Homo sapiens: one gene and its partners. The protein of the gene in region 3 purifies or fractionates together with the protein of the main gene of each other region. This does not show direct contact. Each region holds a gene or a part of one and is shown on either strand. Other genes may lie near its edges.

Region 1 (3,500 bases), on a different chromosome or scaffold from region 3:
CCTCTCTTCATTTACTCGCTTATTCAGACATTCATTCACTGATTCACTCCCTGGGTTCAGACCTCTCCATGACATTATGTCATCAGGCCCTGTTCTTCCCTACAGAGGCCTTACCCATTTCCATATTACTGGTCTCTTCAGCCATCCAATCACAAGCTTAACTTCCTTTACGTATTTGTTTAACTTTCCAAGCCCAACTAATCAACAGCTTGGCATACATCATACTCCATGGCATATGTCATTTGCATGAGAAAGTGTAAAACTAACAAAATGCAACGCTGAATTATAAATACTGTGGCCACGCTAATCAGATTAGAATGTCCTTAAATTCAAAAAAAAAAATCTTCTATTAAAACTCAAGGTCTAGCAGAGTGATCTGCAGATTAGAAACTTCACAGTTGGTATAATAATGTTTGTATGAATTCAGACATTTGTTTATGTCCATCCACCCAATTAATAAAAATTTAACTCACAAAGTATAACAGTAAATTTTATTCCATCAAGGACCCTTTTAGTTTTAACCATGTAAATACTTGATCTCCTTTAAAACCCTCTTTGATTATTCAATCCTATTTGCTTGTCAGAATTTAACCTTTTCCATATGCCTTAAAGTCATCACCATAACTTCAAAATTACTAGAACATGATCTTGCATCAGCTTTTTTGTTCTTCTGCCTCCTTTCTTGCTGGCTGACATTTCTAGTTTTGGATGCTCGTCGTTACCTCTCCTCCACTTTTTGGTTTGTTTCTTTTTTCTGAGTGCAAAATTAAATAACTAAACCTATTAAAAATGTACTATATGGTAAGAGAATAAATTTGGCTTGGAATGAGTTTACATAAATGTTTGCAGAGACTTTAAGATTGCAATTTAGGGCTCATTTAATAGGGAAACAGTTTCAGAGCTGGACTGGTTTCCTTAGCATATGCAATCTGTACTGATGGTAGAGAGAAGATTCCACAAAAACTACAGGGTTTGTGCGAAATCTCATCCTGCTTCAAATTTCAGTGATAGGGTCACTGGGCATCAGATATGGGAGAAGAGGTCAGTGAGCCTTCTTTTATCTCCTTCCTCATAAAACAGGAAAGGCATTCCACTCAGTCACCAGTCCGTTCTGTTTTCCTCCCTACACACTTGACACAGAGATGAGTATTTACTAGCAGAATTGTTTCAGAAATTATGAATGACATCATGGGTCAGTAACATAAAAAGGTATTGGGAGCTGTTCACCTGAGTCACAGCAACCAAGAGAAAGCTAACTGGTCAGCTAAGCTGTCCCCAAGATGGACATCACCTTGCTTACATTCCCCAAAATGCCCATCCTTCTTTTAGATGCCAAAAGGCTGTTCCTTTCTCTTCTTCACCCAGGGTGACCTTCCTTGTAGCTCTTCGCCTCTGATTCAAAATGTAGGTGGAATGCCTCATAGCTACTTAGATCTTTAACCCACACGGACCCAGGACAACACTAACAAAACCCCTTGATCTAGAAATAGAAAAGTCCATGGGAACCTTTAGTGGGCAGCTGGGCCGTGATGTTCCTGTTACACCAGTCCCCTTGGCAGCACTCCACGGCTTGGCCAGGGGACGGCGGGGTCTTACAGGTCATCTTTCCCTGCTCATAAACCTGGAAGCAGCCTTTCTGGTAGACGTGGAAGCCATCGTTGATGCTCAGTGAGGAAAAGCACTGCTGGCCTTCACAGTGGTCCTCATTACCGCAGGAGAGACCTTCACACACACACATGTAGAGTTTGGGGTTGACCTTGGGCTTCTCATCTGCAAAGGAGAGAAAGGAAGGGGAAAAAAAAAAAAAAGAGGAATTACCGTATGAGTTTCACCTTCATTGAGGGAATGACCATTCCAAACACCTCTATCAACAGAAAGTCAAGCTAAGCATCACCATCAACCATGAGGTCCACATTCTGTCACCTTGTCACCTAACCAACCAACAAATAATAATTGCCTCTCAACATAGCGATTCATTTATATAAGCTGTGCACCCTTTTAGATCATATTAGGACAAAGACTGGCTATCATCTGTCCACAGACTTCTGAAAATGAGCTTCTCCCCCTGTGGTGTTCATATAACCTTCAGCGTGATTGGCTCTAAGATCCCAATTACTGCATCAAAATAAAATGTTTTACTGGAACATAATGTTTATCACCTTTATTCTATTCCAAAAAAAAAGCTCCTAAATATATGGCAGCTATTAATACTAATTTTTGCTAGCTCTGTACAAATCCCCATCAACTCGTAAAACAAGGAATGCTGACATTCTTGCAGGTACATGGCAGAAATATACTACAAACTGAGTATCCCTTACTCGAAATGTTTGAGACCAGAAAAGTTTCAAATTTAAAAATTTTTCTGGATTGGGGAATAGTTGTATTTATCCTGGCTGAGCATCTCAAATCCAAAAATCCAGAATTCAAAATGCTCCAATGAGCATTTCTATTGAGCATTGGGTCAATGCTAAAAAAGGTTTGGATTCCAGAGCAGTTCAAGTATCAGGTTTTGGGATTTGAGATGTTCAACCTGTAATATAATAAGAGTTTGCAAGGCTGTACAATCTATAATTACAATCCATGGTACCAATATTTCCAGCTAGATGCCTAGACTAACTTTTTCACTAGTGGTAACACTAAAGTTTACATAGATTATAGTGGGAATTAACACCTGCTTAAGAATTTTTGGCTGGCAGGAAAAAAATGGTGCCAAATATGGAGAATGAGGGCACAAGGAGACCAAGAGAACCGAATAATGTTTGAACAGTAAGGTGACAGGTGGGACCACTGGAAGAATACACACCTAGGGAGTTCAAGGTGCAATGGAAAGAGGCAGAAACGGATGATCAGGGAAGCACATCTAATCACTCTGCTTAATTGTCTCTTTCTGAGAATACTTATTTGCATCTGCATTTTCACATTACTCTTTTCTCTTCCCTTGTCAGTATGATTAGTTTAGACTTGCTGGTCCCACAGTTTCTACTAGTGGGGAAGGAAACAGAGGATAAAATGTAAACAGCCAAGTCCTAGAGGCCACTGATTAGTTAGCTGAGGCCACTTTTGCCGAAGCACTGTTCATATTAGGAAATTCAGCTTTCAGAGCTCCCTCCAAAGGTCTATGGCACATAGAGGCTGCCTTCTAATCCCTGAACCCTCAGTAGTGGGTCTAGGAGATAAATGCTTCTTTCTTAAAATAACAGGTTGGGTGGCTGTGCTTTCCAGAGGAGACCTTAAGGTAAGGTCTTTGAAAATGTCAAGTTCATTTACACAGATTTGTGTGGGTGTGTGTAGAGATGTGGGTTATCTCAAAAAGAGAAAAGCATTCTTAATCTTTCTTCTTCCCTCTTCAAAGAAGTGGAAAAATAGTTCACTGCCCACTGTAATGTGGGTGCCTCGTCCCACAGAGTAAGTGCATGCAGACACACAGACACAGCCTTCTATTTATAATTGACTTGCTAGTTCCTTTGAAAACCACAAGGGGCTCATCCAAGAGCAAAGAC
Region 2 (3,500 bases), on a different chromosome or scaffold from region 3:
AACTCTACCTGGTGCATCCCATACCTCTCAGAACTGCTGCATTTCAACCCTGCACCTCCACCTGGCTGTGCCCTCAGGACGACCTGACCCCTTCATCCCTACCTCTTGCTCTCCCATCAGAACCCACGCAGCACACCCCTTCTCCTTATGCCTGACCCTGCTCACCGTCTTCATCTTCCTCAGCAGGAGTGGAGGGACGAGGCCTCTTTTCCTCACTGGCCTCGGAAATTTCCGATGGCTCTTTCCGCTTTACCTGGGGGATGGGGAAAAGATGGGGCCTGTTTAGAGCTCAAACACTCAGGCAGAGCACGGTGGCTCACTCCTGTAATCCCAGCACTTTGGGAGGCCAAGGCAGGTAGATCACCTGAGGTTAGGAGTTCAAGACCAGCCTGGCCAACACAGTGAAACCCCAGCTCTACTAAAAATACAAAAATTAGCCAGGCGTGGTGGCGGGTGCCTGTAACCCCAGCTACTCGGGAGGCTGAGGCAGGAGAATCGCTTGAACCCGGGAGGCGGAGGTTGCAGTGAGCTGAGATCAGGCCACTGCACTCCAGCCTGGGCAACAGAGTAAGACTCCATCTCAAAAAAAAGAAAAAACTCAAACACTCATGGTTCCTGACCACCCCTACCCCAAGGAAGGGGGCCCCCTCTCCCTCTCCCCACCCTACCCCACAAAACGACAGTTCTGAGTACCTTGAATGAAGGCAGCCGCAGGGCCCCTCTCAGCCCTGACCCAAAGGCGAAAGCCTCGATGCCCGTAGTGCCCCCGCTCTTGGCCCAGTCCACGAGGGACAGCAGGCCAGGCTCCTTCAGCTTCGTCTTCTCTTTATCCTCCTCCTTGGCTTGCTGCTTGGCCGCGTTCTGGAATGGCTGCAGGCAGCAGTGGGGCTGAGCCCCAGCGCCCAGAACCCAGGCATTCCCTCCTGCCTGAGACCTACTCCCGGACCCCAGGAATACAGAACGCATCTACTTGCTGCTCCATATCTTGGTCACACCTGTCCCAGCCCCCGCACGGCATTTTCTCAAAAGTCTGTCATTTCGCCCACCAGTCTTAAGAAATAGCCACCATTCCCACTTCACAAGTGGCAAAATGGAAGACCAAAGCTTGAAGAGAGCTAAGGGCCTTGTCCACTGCAAGCCAGCAAGGAATGGAGCCAGGACAAAGCTCTGCTGCCTCCCAGGCCCATCTGTGCCTGCTTCTCTGTCCCCTCAACTCCCCTGCCCACCCAGGGTGGCCTGCAGGGCCTGCGGCCTCTCTCCACTCGCCTCCATCACCTGTCTCCTCTGAGCTGTGCAGCCTGGAGGAGCCAGAGGCCCATTTCCTCCTGCAAAGCCCAGGGCTCCCCGGTCCCAGGCGCTGGCCTCACCTTGGCCTTCTCCTCCTTGCTCTCCCACCACTGGTCAAAGGCTCCGAAGGCCACGTTCTCCACCATCTTGCGGTTGAGGTCTCGCTGCATGATGCTCTTCATCTCCTGGACCAGCATGGCGAGCACACGGCCCACGGTGCCTGCTGTCGGGAGGGTCTTGCCCTCTGCCAGCTCTGCTTCTTCCCTGGGTGGCAGCCGGGCCTCCTCTCCCGAGACTGAGGAGGAGGGCAGGGGCTCGGCTGCCATTGGCATGGGCAGGTGGTAGGCCTCCCGTGAGTATGCCCCTCTGCCCTCCTGCCCCTGTGCATATAGAGCATACGGCAAGCCGTAGGCTGCCTCCTGCGGGGGTGGAAACGGGAGGAAGGCCTCCCCAAAGGCCCCACCGGGGGGGCCAGCTGAGGCGGCAATCAATCCCTTGCCCTGCCGCAGCTGATGGAGCCGAGTTAACATCTGGGTCTGCATCTGGAAGGACATGGGCATCCCTCCCCACTGAGCCCCAAGTCGGTCCATGAGCTCCAAGGAGTTCACAAAGTCATAGATGTGCGGGGGTGGTGGAGGAGGTGGGGGGTACTCAGGGGGCGGCGGCCCATCAGGTCTGGGTGGGAGGAGGTAGGCAGGTTGGTGGGGAGGATAACCAAGAGGAAGGGACGCCAGGTAGGGAGGAGGAGGCGGCGGGGGAGGGGGAGGTGGCGGAGGCTGCTGAGGGGGCGTCGGGGCCGGAGGGGGTGAGCCACCCCGGTCGTCGTCGGAGATCTCCATGTCGTCTCCAGAAGAGCATGGAGAAGCCTGCGGGGGCAGAAGAGGGTCACAGAAGGCTTCTGCCTGACCCAAGCCCTACTTTCTCATCTGGTTCCCTTCCCTCTCCCCTAGGCCCAACCCTGACTCCCAGAGCCCAGGTGCCTCCTCTGGCTGACCCCAACCTCACCTGGTTCTGTCCATTTGCCTTGGGAGACTCCCGGGTAGCCCCTGGCTCCCCGCTCCCTGTAGGTGCCACATCCTCAAAATTAGCTGGGGCCGGAGGGGGTGTGCAGGGCCCATGCCCTGACCCAGAAGGCACCTCACTCCCTGTATCTCTGGCCCCAAGGACCATGCTGCTGTTCTCTTCCTCCTCCTCTGTGTCAGAGGCCAAGAAGGAAAACTTGGAGCGCTGCTCCTTCAGCAGCATCTCGATGCGGGAATCCAGGCTGCTGTGCTGGGCGAAGGGCACACTCTCATTGGTGGTCTCCGGGGCTGGGGAGCCAGAGCGGGCAGGGGAGGCTGGGCGGGGGGAAGTCCGAACTTCTTCTCTCTCAGGGCTGGGCCCTCCTCCACCCCCGCCTCCACCAGGTTCTGGAGGCTCCGGGGGTGGAGCCTCTGAGGCAGGAGGCCGGTAGTCCTGGTCGGTGGGCCGGCTGGGCTCGGGGGGCAGGTAGGAGGTGTAAGAAGGTGGGAAGCGCTCAGCTGTATTTTCAGCAAAAGGGGCTCCAGGGGGTTCCTCCCGTGTGGCCCGGCGTGGTGGGTAGGAAGTATGGCGCTGGTAGCGATTCCAGCTTTCATAATACGCTGGGTAGTTTGCATCAGAACTACGAAACTGAGAGGACGAGGAGGAAGAGGATGACGAGGAGGACGAGGACAATGAGGAGGAAGAGGCGGAGGATGAGGCAGTGGCTGCAGTGGTGGCGGCGATGGCCGTGGAGGCGGTTGTGGAGGCTGAAGATGCAGAGAAGTGGCGGCGGGAAAAGGCATCTTGGTAGCTGTTCTCTGACCGCCGGGGCTTGAAGGAGGTTGAAGTGGTGCTGGAGAAGAAGCAGGGGAGTTAGCTGGACTCAGCTCTCTATGACCAAACCACAGCGTACTGGGTCCCAGGGCCCAAAGCCCCTCTATGCTGCCCTCCAAAAGAAGAGCTATATGTTGGGTTCCTAGCTAGTGTGTTCCCCGAGGACAGCAATTTGTTGACTGAATCCACAGAGAAACTAGGACAAATTATTTCCAACTCCCTCTTGGAGACAGACTCTGGGCATCTTCTTCCCAGTGGCAGCTCCCAGACTTTGCGGGCGGGGCCCCAGGCGGGGTCTGCTCTGTACCTGCTGGAGTAGGCAGAGTCCTGAGAGTAGGGGGTGCTGCCCCGAGACGTGTAGGGGGTTCCTTGGGAGG
Region 3 (3,500 bases):
CATCCCATTCCCAGTGAGACCTCTGAGGAGAACTTCTCAGAGTGTCCCCCTCGAGCTTTCTCCCTCCCCCGGGTGTGCGTGTCTAGTGTGTGGCCGCGTGTCCACCGGCACTGGGGTTGGGGTCTCACAGGCGGCGCGGTCTCCGTTGGTGCGGGGGTTGATCTCAGCCTTGTTCTGCCGACCTCGCGTGCCTGTCACCTCCTCCAGTCGGTAGATGTGTTCCAAGCAGAGGCGCGGGTTGAAGGCGAAGTAGATCTTGCCCACGGGAATGGTGAGCCCCGCGGCCACCCAGGACCCTAGCTGTTGTAGGTTCTGGTTGTCCAGCACGTAGAGAGTGTAGTTCCTGGGGGAGGCCAGGGGACCTTGCTCTGCGGGGAGGTGGGGGCAGGGGGTGGGAAAGGGGATGGCTTATGGGTTCCTCCTGGAAGGGTTTTGCTGGGCCCGGGGAGAGGGGCACTCAGTGGCTGGCTCACACCAGCACACCGGGGGCATTCGTGCATACCCACTCTGTGCCACTGACCAGGAGTATGATGTCTGCCAAGTCACCCCATCTTTTGGTTTTCCTCATCAGTGAAATGGGGTCCTCAGCTTCCCTGCCCCCATCCTTCCCTCGACTCTCTTTGAACTGAGCACCTGCTATGTGCCAGACTCTGGAGGCTTTGGAGACACCAGGAGGAGTAGTACTCAGCCTGGGCCATTCCTTTCCAGCTGAGGTGTGGACACTCTCGGTGTACATGCAATGTGTCTGGAGACATGAGAAGCCACAGAGAGCCACTAGACTAGATGACTAGATGGTAACTTTTTTTTTTTTTCCTCACTCTGTCATCCAGGCCAGAGTGCAGTGGCACAATTGTGGCCCACTGCCGCCTTGACCTCCCGGGCTCAGGTGATCCTCCCACCTCAGTCTCTTGAGTAGCTGAGACTACAGGCATGCACCACCACGGTCAGCTAATTTTGTATTTTTTATAGAGACAGAGTTTCACCATGTTGCCCAGGCTGGTCTCTAACTCCTAGGTTCAAGTGATCCTCCCACCTCGGCTTGCCAAAGTGCTAGGATTACAGGCACGAGCCACCGCATCTGGCCTGGTTGGTTATTTATTTATGTATGTTTTGAGCTGGAGTCTCCCTCTGTCACCCAGGCTGCAGTGTAGTGGCACGATCTCAGCTCAGTGTAACCCCTGTCTCCCAGGTTCAAGTGATTCTCCTGCCTCAGCCTCCTGAGTAGCTGGGACTACAGGTGCCCACCACCACACCTGGCTAATTTTTGTATTTTTAGTAGAGATGGGTTTTCTCCATGTTGGCCAGGCTGGTCTTGAACTCCTGACCGCATGGTGATCCTCCTGCCTTGCCCTCCCAAAGTGCAGAGATTACAGGCAGGAGCCACCGTGCCCGACCTGGATGGTAATTTAAAACATTCTTTTTTTTTTTTTTTTTTTTTTTTTTTTTTTGAGATGGAGTCCCTCTCTGTAACTCAGGCCCTAGGCTGGAGTGCAGTGGCACGATTTCGGCTCACTGTAATCTCTACCTTCTGGGTTCAAACAATTCTCCTGCCTCAGCCTCCCAAGTAGCTGGGATTAAAGGCACGTGCCACCATGCCCATCTACTTTTTTTGTATTTTTAGTAAAGATGGGGTTTCACCACGTTGGCCAGGCTGGTCTTGAATTCCTGACCTCAAGTGATCCACCCGCCTCAGCCTCCCAAAGTGCAGGGATTACAGGTGTGAGCCACCGTGCCTGGCTCATTCTTTTTATTTTAAAAAATGCTGGCTACATTATAGGTAGGCCTTGACTGGCAGATGATAGGAATGGGTTTCAAACCCAGGCAGTCTTGCTCTGCAGCTGACAGGACCAGATGATGACAATTATAGCCAACTGTTATAGAGTTATATGTGACTGTAATTTATATTGTATATACTGTGTTCCAGGCATTGTTTTATGTGCTTTACACATAACAACTTGAGTAATATTCAAAACAGTCCTGAGAAGTAAGTAATGTTATATTAGCCCTATTTTACAGATGAGAAAACTGAAGACCAGAGAAGTTAACCTACTTAGAGTCACACGCCTAGTGAGTAGCAAAATTGGTTCCAGAGCCCATTCTCTTCACCACTGTTCTGGGAGTGTTGGAGGAAGGAGTGTAATAGAAGGAGCTGGTCAGAGGCCTAACCCTTACCCATCCACCATGGCGTCTCCCCGGATTAGTTTGAGGTTCTTGAAAAAGCCCAGGGACACGAGGGCAAAGGAGTGCTTGATTTTGAGGAAGCCAGTAATGGTTTCTACCAGCCCCAGGCTGTGCTGCAGCTGTGGCTCCAGGTTGTCTAGGGATGGGAAGACAGGGCTGGAGTAGGAGCAAGGAAGGTGATGGGTCTGTGGGGCAAGGGGGCTGAATGGGGGCCCCGGGAAGGTGGGCCCTCAGGACTGGGACCCAGGATGATGGAAAATTGTGCTGAGTTGGGTCATTGTAAGGGTTGTGTCTGGGAGGAAGGGTATGACCAGGAGGAGGGGTGTGGCCCCAAAGTAGGTACTGACAGCCCTGGCGAAGGTTGAGGATGAGGCTTCCCTCCACATGCGTGCAGCCCACAAGATCCTGTGCCGCCTGGATGGAGTCGATGGTCTTGGTGCCTACCTTGCACTCTTTAGGGCACAGCCCCTCGCACTTGTGGCAGAATATGCTAGCAGGAGCAAGCAGATGTCCTGAGCCTTGGACCAGTTTGGGCCTCCTCAGGCCTCCTCACTGCTCCCAGGGTGCCCCCCACCCTCCCTACACTCACCTGCTGCTATTACGGGTGAAGCCAGAAGGGCACTGGGCCAGGCAACTGCCCTGGTGTATGCCGAAGGTGGAGGCACGGCCGGGCACAGAGTGCAGGCTGGCACAGCGCTCAGCTGTGACACAGCGCCAGGACTCATACTGGTAGGTGCCTGGCGGGCAGGCCCACAGGCAGGCACCCTGGAAGTAGAGGTGGCGGCAAGCTACACAGGCACGAGGGTCTTCTGGCTGGCTGCAGCCCCCCAGGCATTCGGTGTGGCAGCACTCGCCCCTCGCTGTGCAAGCCATCCCATGGGGGCAGGGGCACACTGTGGGGAGAGTGGTGTGTTAGACGTTGGCCATGCCCCCTCAGTCCTGGCTGTCCTTCCAATGCTGGCCCCACCCTGTTTCTCTTGGGATGACACTCAATCTGCACCCAGGTCCCTCCCATTCAGATGACACTGGTTGCCGACTCTGTTCCCCTCCGATGGGATTCTTGAGGACAAGGACTGTGGCCGTCTGTGGCTCCCCACCTCCCACAGTGCCTAGTCGGGGGTGTCAGAGCTCAGGACAGAGCAGTGACCTTGTCCATCAGGGTTGTTGCTCTCCAGCCTGCTGTCCTGTCTATCCTATCTAGGCCTGGTGCCCAGATCATGGCTGGGCATGGTGCCAGGGTGAGCGGGCCAGCCTCTCCTGAGCAGCTAGGCCCAGGGGCCTGGGAGTGTGTGCAGGGAGGGGCCGACATCTGTCGTTTT
Region 4 (4,074 bases), on a different chromosome or scaffold from region 3:
AAGGGTGGATACAGGGCGGCGAGAGTGCTCTGCACACAGTCCTCCACTGGCTCAGGCTCCTGTAGAGATAGGACCAGGCTACAGATCCCTAGAGATCACCCAATCATGGCTCCTTGGGAGCTGCACTGGTCTGGGGTTGGCTGTGTTCTCCAAAGCCCCGATTGTACAATGTGGGCAAAAAGTGAGCACTCAGGAAATGCTGGCTGATGAGCCCAGAACAGGAGTGGGGCTGGGCCAGAGTGCACAAACCTGGCAGGGCGCTCAACACTCCCGCTCTGAGACCTTGGCTTTGGAGATCCAGGGAGAATTTGTTGTGAATGCCCCTGATCAGGGCTGTTCCGGGTGCTCGTGAGTTGGGGTGATTGCATAGATCTTTCCCAGGAGAGAAAAGACAGGCTTCTGGGCTATCAGGGGACTGAGCTTATGGCTGAGAACTCGAGGGGATGAGGGAGATTTCCACACAGCCATCCTGCAAATCCCTTCCCATAAGACCCACCATCCAGGGCTCCCCATCTTAGGTGGAGGTGCCATCACCCACAATTATGTCCCAGAGATGATCATTTGGTGAAAGAGAGATGCTCATTTATATGCTAGAGATGGTCATTTGGTGGAAAGAGGAGGATGGAAAGACTGTCTGTGACTGTCTTGGGTCTTTCTAGCATCCCTCTTCCTTCTCCCACAGTGGCTCTGAAGCAATCACCCAATCTTAGAGCATGTGGGATTGGATTACAAAGAATCGGGTGGGGGCAGTTGAAAGAGAAAAAAGTCACAAGAGGAACTTGTGGGAAGGGAGGAGGAGGCCTTGATGGTGCGCATTCGAGCTGATCTTTTCTGATTCCAGTGGGACCTCTCTCTGCCAACCTCCACTAGGAGTCTCAAAAAGACTCAGCCCTGCTTCATCCAGACTCCCCTCCCTAAGTGAGTCAATGAGACGTCTTTCTCCAACTCCTAACCTAAACAACCACCCCTTGGGCTATTCCTTTGCAAACTTCTTTTTCAAGACAGTCTTTGAAGTCCCTTTTACTGGAATTTTTTTTTCTTTTTTGCTGTAAATGGGGAAGGGGATACTCAATGCAGCCTTTACCTTGGTCTCTACCTTCCCTACCCCCATACCTTGCCTTTGCCATAAAACAAAATAGCTTATTTTTCTCTGAGCTCCATCCAGAGTTGCCCGTTTGTCTTGACCGTCTGGGAAGTTAGGGCAACCACTCCAGAGACGGGACATTCAGTGCGTCAGCGCGCAGACCCGGCCCCAAGGTGTGTGGGCGAGCAGACAGACCCCCAGTGTTCCCGGGACCAGGCGGACGCAGTGCGCGTGGGTGGGGGGAAGGTGGAGATGGGCGGGGGTGAGGCAGAGTGGGGCCGTCTGCTCCAAGGCAGGGAGTGCGGAGCTAGGGCTTGAGCAGCGAGGCAGCTGCAACCCATTAGGGGCGGTGAGCTCATGGCTGAGCGAGAGTCTCAGCCACAGGAAACGGCCGCGGCAGGAGGGGAGGAGGGGTCTGGGGAGGGAGGCGGCGGGCGGGAGCACGGAGACCCAGCCTCCTGCCGGCGGGGACCAGAGAGGAGACCAGAGAGACTGAGTCAGCTCTCCCTGGCCCAGTTCCTCTTTCTTTTTCCTCCAGCCTCCCTGCCAGAGGGTGCCCTTCCCTCCGTAGAGGGGCGGCCCCAGTAGTGCCCCTGCCCCTCCTCCACTCCCTGCGGTGAGCTCCCCCTGGCAAGGCCTCTCCCCCTCCTCCACTCTGCAGCGAGCGGCCCCTTGGCCATGCCCCCGCCCTCTTTGCAGTGGGCGCTCTCTCTGGCAGTGCCCACTCTCGCAGCGGTGCTTCAGAGTACTCTGCAGTGAAAGTTCCCAGGGCAGTGTTCACTCCTGTTGGTGTGGGCTTCTCCTTAGCGTACCCTCCAGCGTCCAGCGCCCCAAGTTGCTGCTGCCAGGGTCCCCTAGTCCCTGCAGGGAGCTCCGGCTCGTGTTCCCTCCCCTCTGTAGCAGGAGTGCCCTGAGGCAGCCCTTCAGTTCCCTGCAGCAAGAGCTCTGGGGCACTTTCCTCCTCCGCAAACTCTGGTCGGCTCTGGCAGTGTCACGCCCCCTGGTACTGTGAGCTCCCCCCCAAGCACCCCCAACTATCCTGAGGCAGCTCTTTTTCTCTGCGGGAATTTCCCTCTTTGGCCATGCCCCGGGACCCGGCCCAGCCACAGCTGTGGCCAGTCCCCTAGGGCCGGATGGGTGGGCCTGCCTCACCGGGTTGGGGACAGGGATGGAAAATGGTGGTTCCATGCAGGTCAGTTCTCATGACCCGAGGGGCCGGGCCTCTTCCAGGGTCGCTGCAGGACCAACCCGCAGGGGTCTCCCGCGGGTAAGGAGCTCGGACCAGGAGGGGGAGGGAAGCTCCAGGAAAGGAAGGCACAGGTCAGGACAGAGGAGGGCGGGGAGCGGGGAGGTGTGTGGATTAGGGGAGAGACCCAAGGGAGGATGGGGGAGGAGGCGGAGGAGAGGAGGAAGAAAGGGTGAGGGCAATACCCGGTGGGGACAGAGCTAAACAGTCGGGCAGACAGACAAATCGAAGAAGGGGGGATGGGAGGGAGGAGAGTCCCAGAGGGGCCGAACAGTCCGAGGCAGGCTCGGGAGGCACCAGGCTGAGGACTTGGGGGCCCGGAGCGGGCTGCGCGAAGGCCGAGGGGACCCAGGGGGCTGCGACGCTGGACTCACCATGGCTCGGCGCCGGGCCGCGTCCGACGCTTGGTCGGGCGGGCGGGGCCGGGCGCGCCACCGCCTCCCTCCCGCCGCTCGTGTCTCGCCGGGTCTGGCTAAGGGACAGCTCCGGCCGCGGTGGCGGCTCGGCCCGCTCCGGCTTCCAGGCCGCGGGGCCCCGCCAGGGAGGGCCGAGACGGCCGCCCCTCCCCGCCCCGCCCTTCAGCGCCCGCCCCCGCCTCCGCGCGGGACCCCTTGCCGGGACTCTGTCTCCCGCGCCGAGATCTCTGCCGTTCCCCGGGCGTCCCCAGCCTATCCGTCCCGTTCACCGGCAACCTTCTTTCTTCTCCGCCCCGCCCTCCAGCGGGTAACCTCGACCCTGACCCTCGGAGGCCCGCCCAGCCGAGGATGCCCCTCTTTTCCCGCCACGGCCTCGCTCCCCGCGGGATCAGTTTAGCCTCGGCAAGGGATGCTCCAAAGGCTGGGGCGTGCGTGAATTCCCTTGGGCCGCCCCTTCCCAGAACTGGGGTCTTCCTGCGGCTGGAAAGCCTCCCCGCTCTAACTCGCCCGGGATCCTCTTCTCTCAACGGTTTCTAGACTTTGGCAGGACCCAGGGCTCAAATGAGACCTTCAGGCCCCTGCCTGCCTAGCAGAGAGCGGAGGGCCGGGAAATCAGGGGATTCCCCAACCCCCCGGGGGCTTGCCCGCCCTCCTTTCCCTCCATCTCCTCGGGCCTGGAATCTCTGGGCTGACAATGGGCTCCTCTGTGTTGCCTGGGGAAGGCGGGAGTGTGCGGGAGTTAGGGAGCAGCGAAGGCTTGGGATAGGGGGCGGACATCCTGGCCAAGGGGGCAGGGTTCCCGGATCGGGATGCTTATGTAGGGGCGTGCATTTCGCCGGACATTTTCTGAGTTCTCTCCTCCGTGGCCCTTCCCTTCCGCATCCCTACCTCTCTATTCGGCTAGAAGAGGGAAGGCACCAGGCCTCCAGTTCGAGGATTCGGTACTGGATGCCAGCCCCTTCCTTCTGTTGGGGTGGCTATAGAGTCCCGCAGGGCCGCTAGGGCTCGTGGCCATGGGAATGGGTGGGTATCTGGCGCAGGAGACAAAGCAGGGTGGGCTAGTTACGAAAGTTCTAGCCTCACTCCCTCATCAAACCCCGAGCGTCCCCCGACAGTGTCTGAATGAGAAAGGAAGGCCAGATGGGGGGTCTCCCAGGAGCCCGGGGGGAGGCACGGGCACGGCGGGGAGATGCCCTGCCTGGCCTCTGAGCAGGCACCGGGAAGCCCCGCAGCTCCGTGAGCTCTTCTAAAGGGTGGACGGAAGGGAGAGGAGAGGAGATCGGAAAGCCGAATAGTCCCCGGAGGGGCGTGAACGCGTGTGCCCCTGC

The links. Proteins that work in one complex are often made in the same cells at the same time.
Region 1: the proteins of INSRR (region 3) and ACVR1 purify together in Homo sapiens (affinity purification with mass spectrometry; one large-scale study listed by BioGRID and IntAct). This does not show direct contact.
Region 2: the proteins of INSRR (region 3) and SETD1A purify together in Homo sapiens (affinity purification with mass spectrometry; one large-scale study listed by BioGRID and IntAct). This does not show direct contact.
Region 4: the proteins of INSRR (region 3) and ARHGEF40 purify together in Homo sapiens (affinity purification with mass spectrometry; one large-scale study listed by BioGRID and IntAct). This does not show direct contact.

Annotation. Positions count from the first base shown.
Region 1 is NC_000002.12:157,778,831-157,782,330, forward strand, and holds part of ACVR1 (activin receptor type-1 precursor), read right to left. Parts: intron 1,771-3,500; coding exon 1,507-1,770; intron 1-1,506. UniProt on the Homo sapiens protein: Bone morphogenetic protein (BMP) type I receptor that is involved in a wide variety of biological processes, including bone, heart, cartilage, nervous, and reproductive system development and regulation.
Region 2 is NC_000016.10:30,964,254-30,967,753, reverse strand, and holds part of SETD1A (histone-lysine N-methyltransferase SETD1A), read right to left. Parts: coding exon 3,431-3,500; intron 3,143-3,430; coding exon 2,293-3,142; intron 2,154-2,292; coding exon 1,368-2,153; intron 935-1,367; coding exon of another isoform or gene 871-934; coding exon 694-870; intron 254-693; coding exon 166-253; intron 1-165. UniProt on the Homo sapiens protein: Histone methyltransferase that catalyzes methyl group transfer from S-adenosyl-L-methionine to the epsilon-amino group of 'Lys-4' of histone H3 (H3K4) via a non-processive mechanism.
Region 3 is NC_000001.11:156,849,118-156,852,617, forward strand, and holds part of INSRR (insulin receptor-related protein precursor), read right to left. Parts: intron 3,075-3,500; coding exon 2,771-3,074; intron 2,672-2,770; coding exon 2,529-2,671; intron 2,318-2,528; coding exon 2,173-2,317; intron 344-2,172; coding exon 129-343; intron 1-128. UniProt on the Homo sapiens protein: Receptor with tyrosine-protein kinase activity. Functions as a pH sensing receptor which is activated by increased extracellular pH. Activates an intracellular signaling pathway that involves IRS1 and AKT1/PKB.
Region 4 is NC_000014.9:21,069,030-21,073,103, reverse strand, and holds the start of ARHGEF40 (rho guanine nucleotide exchange factor 40), read right to left. Parts: upstream 2,801-4,074; 5' UTR 2,708-2,800; coding exon 2,705-2,707; intron 2,277-2,704; coding exon of another isoform or gene 2,253-2,276; exon of another isoform or gene 2,232-2,252; intron 60-2,231; coding exon 1-59. UniProt on the Homo sapiens protein: May act as a guanine nucleotide exchange factor (GEF).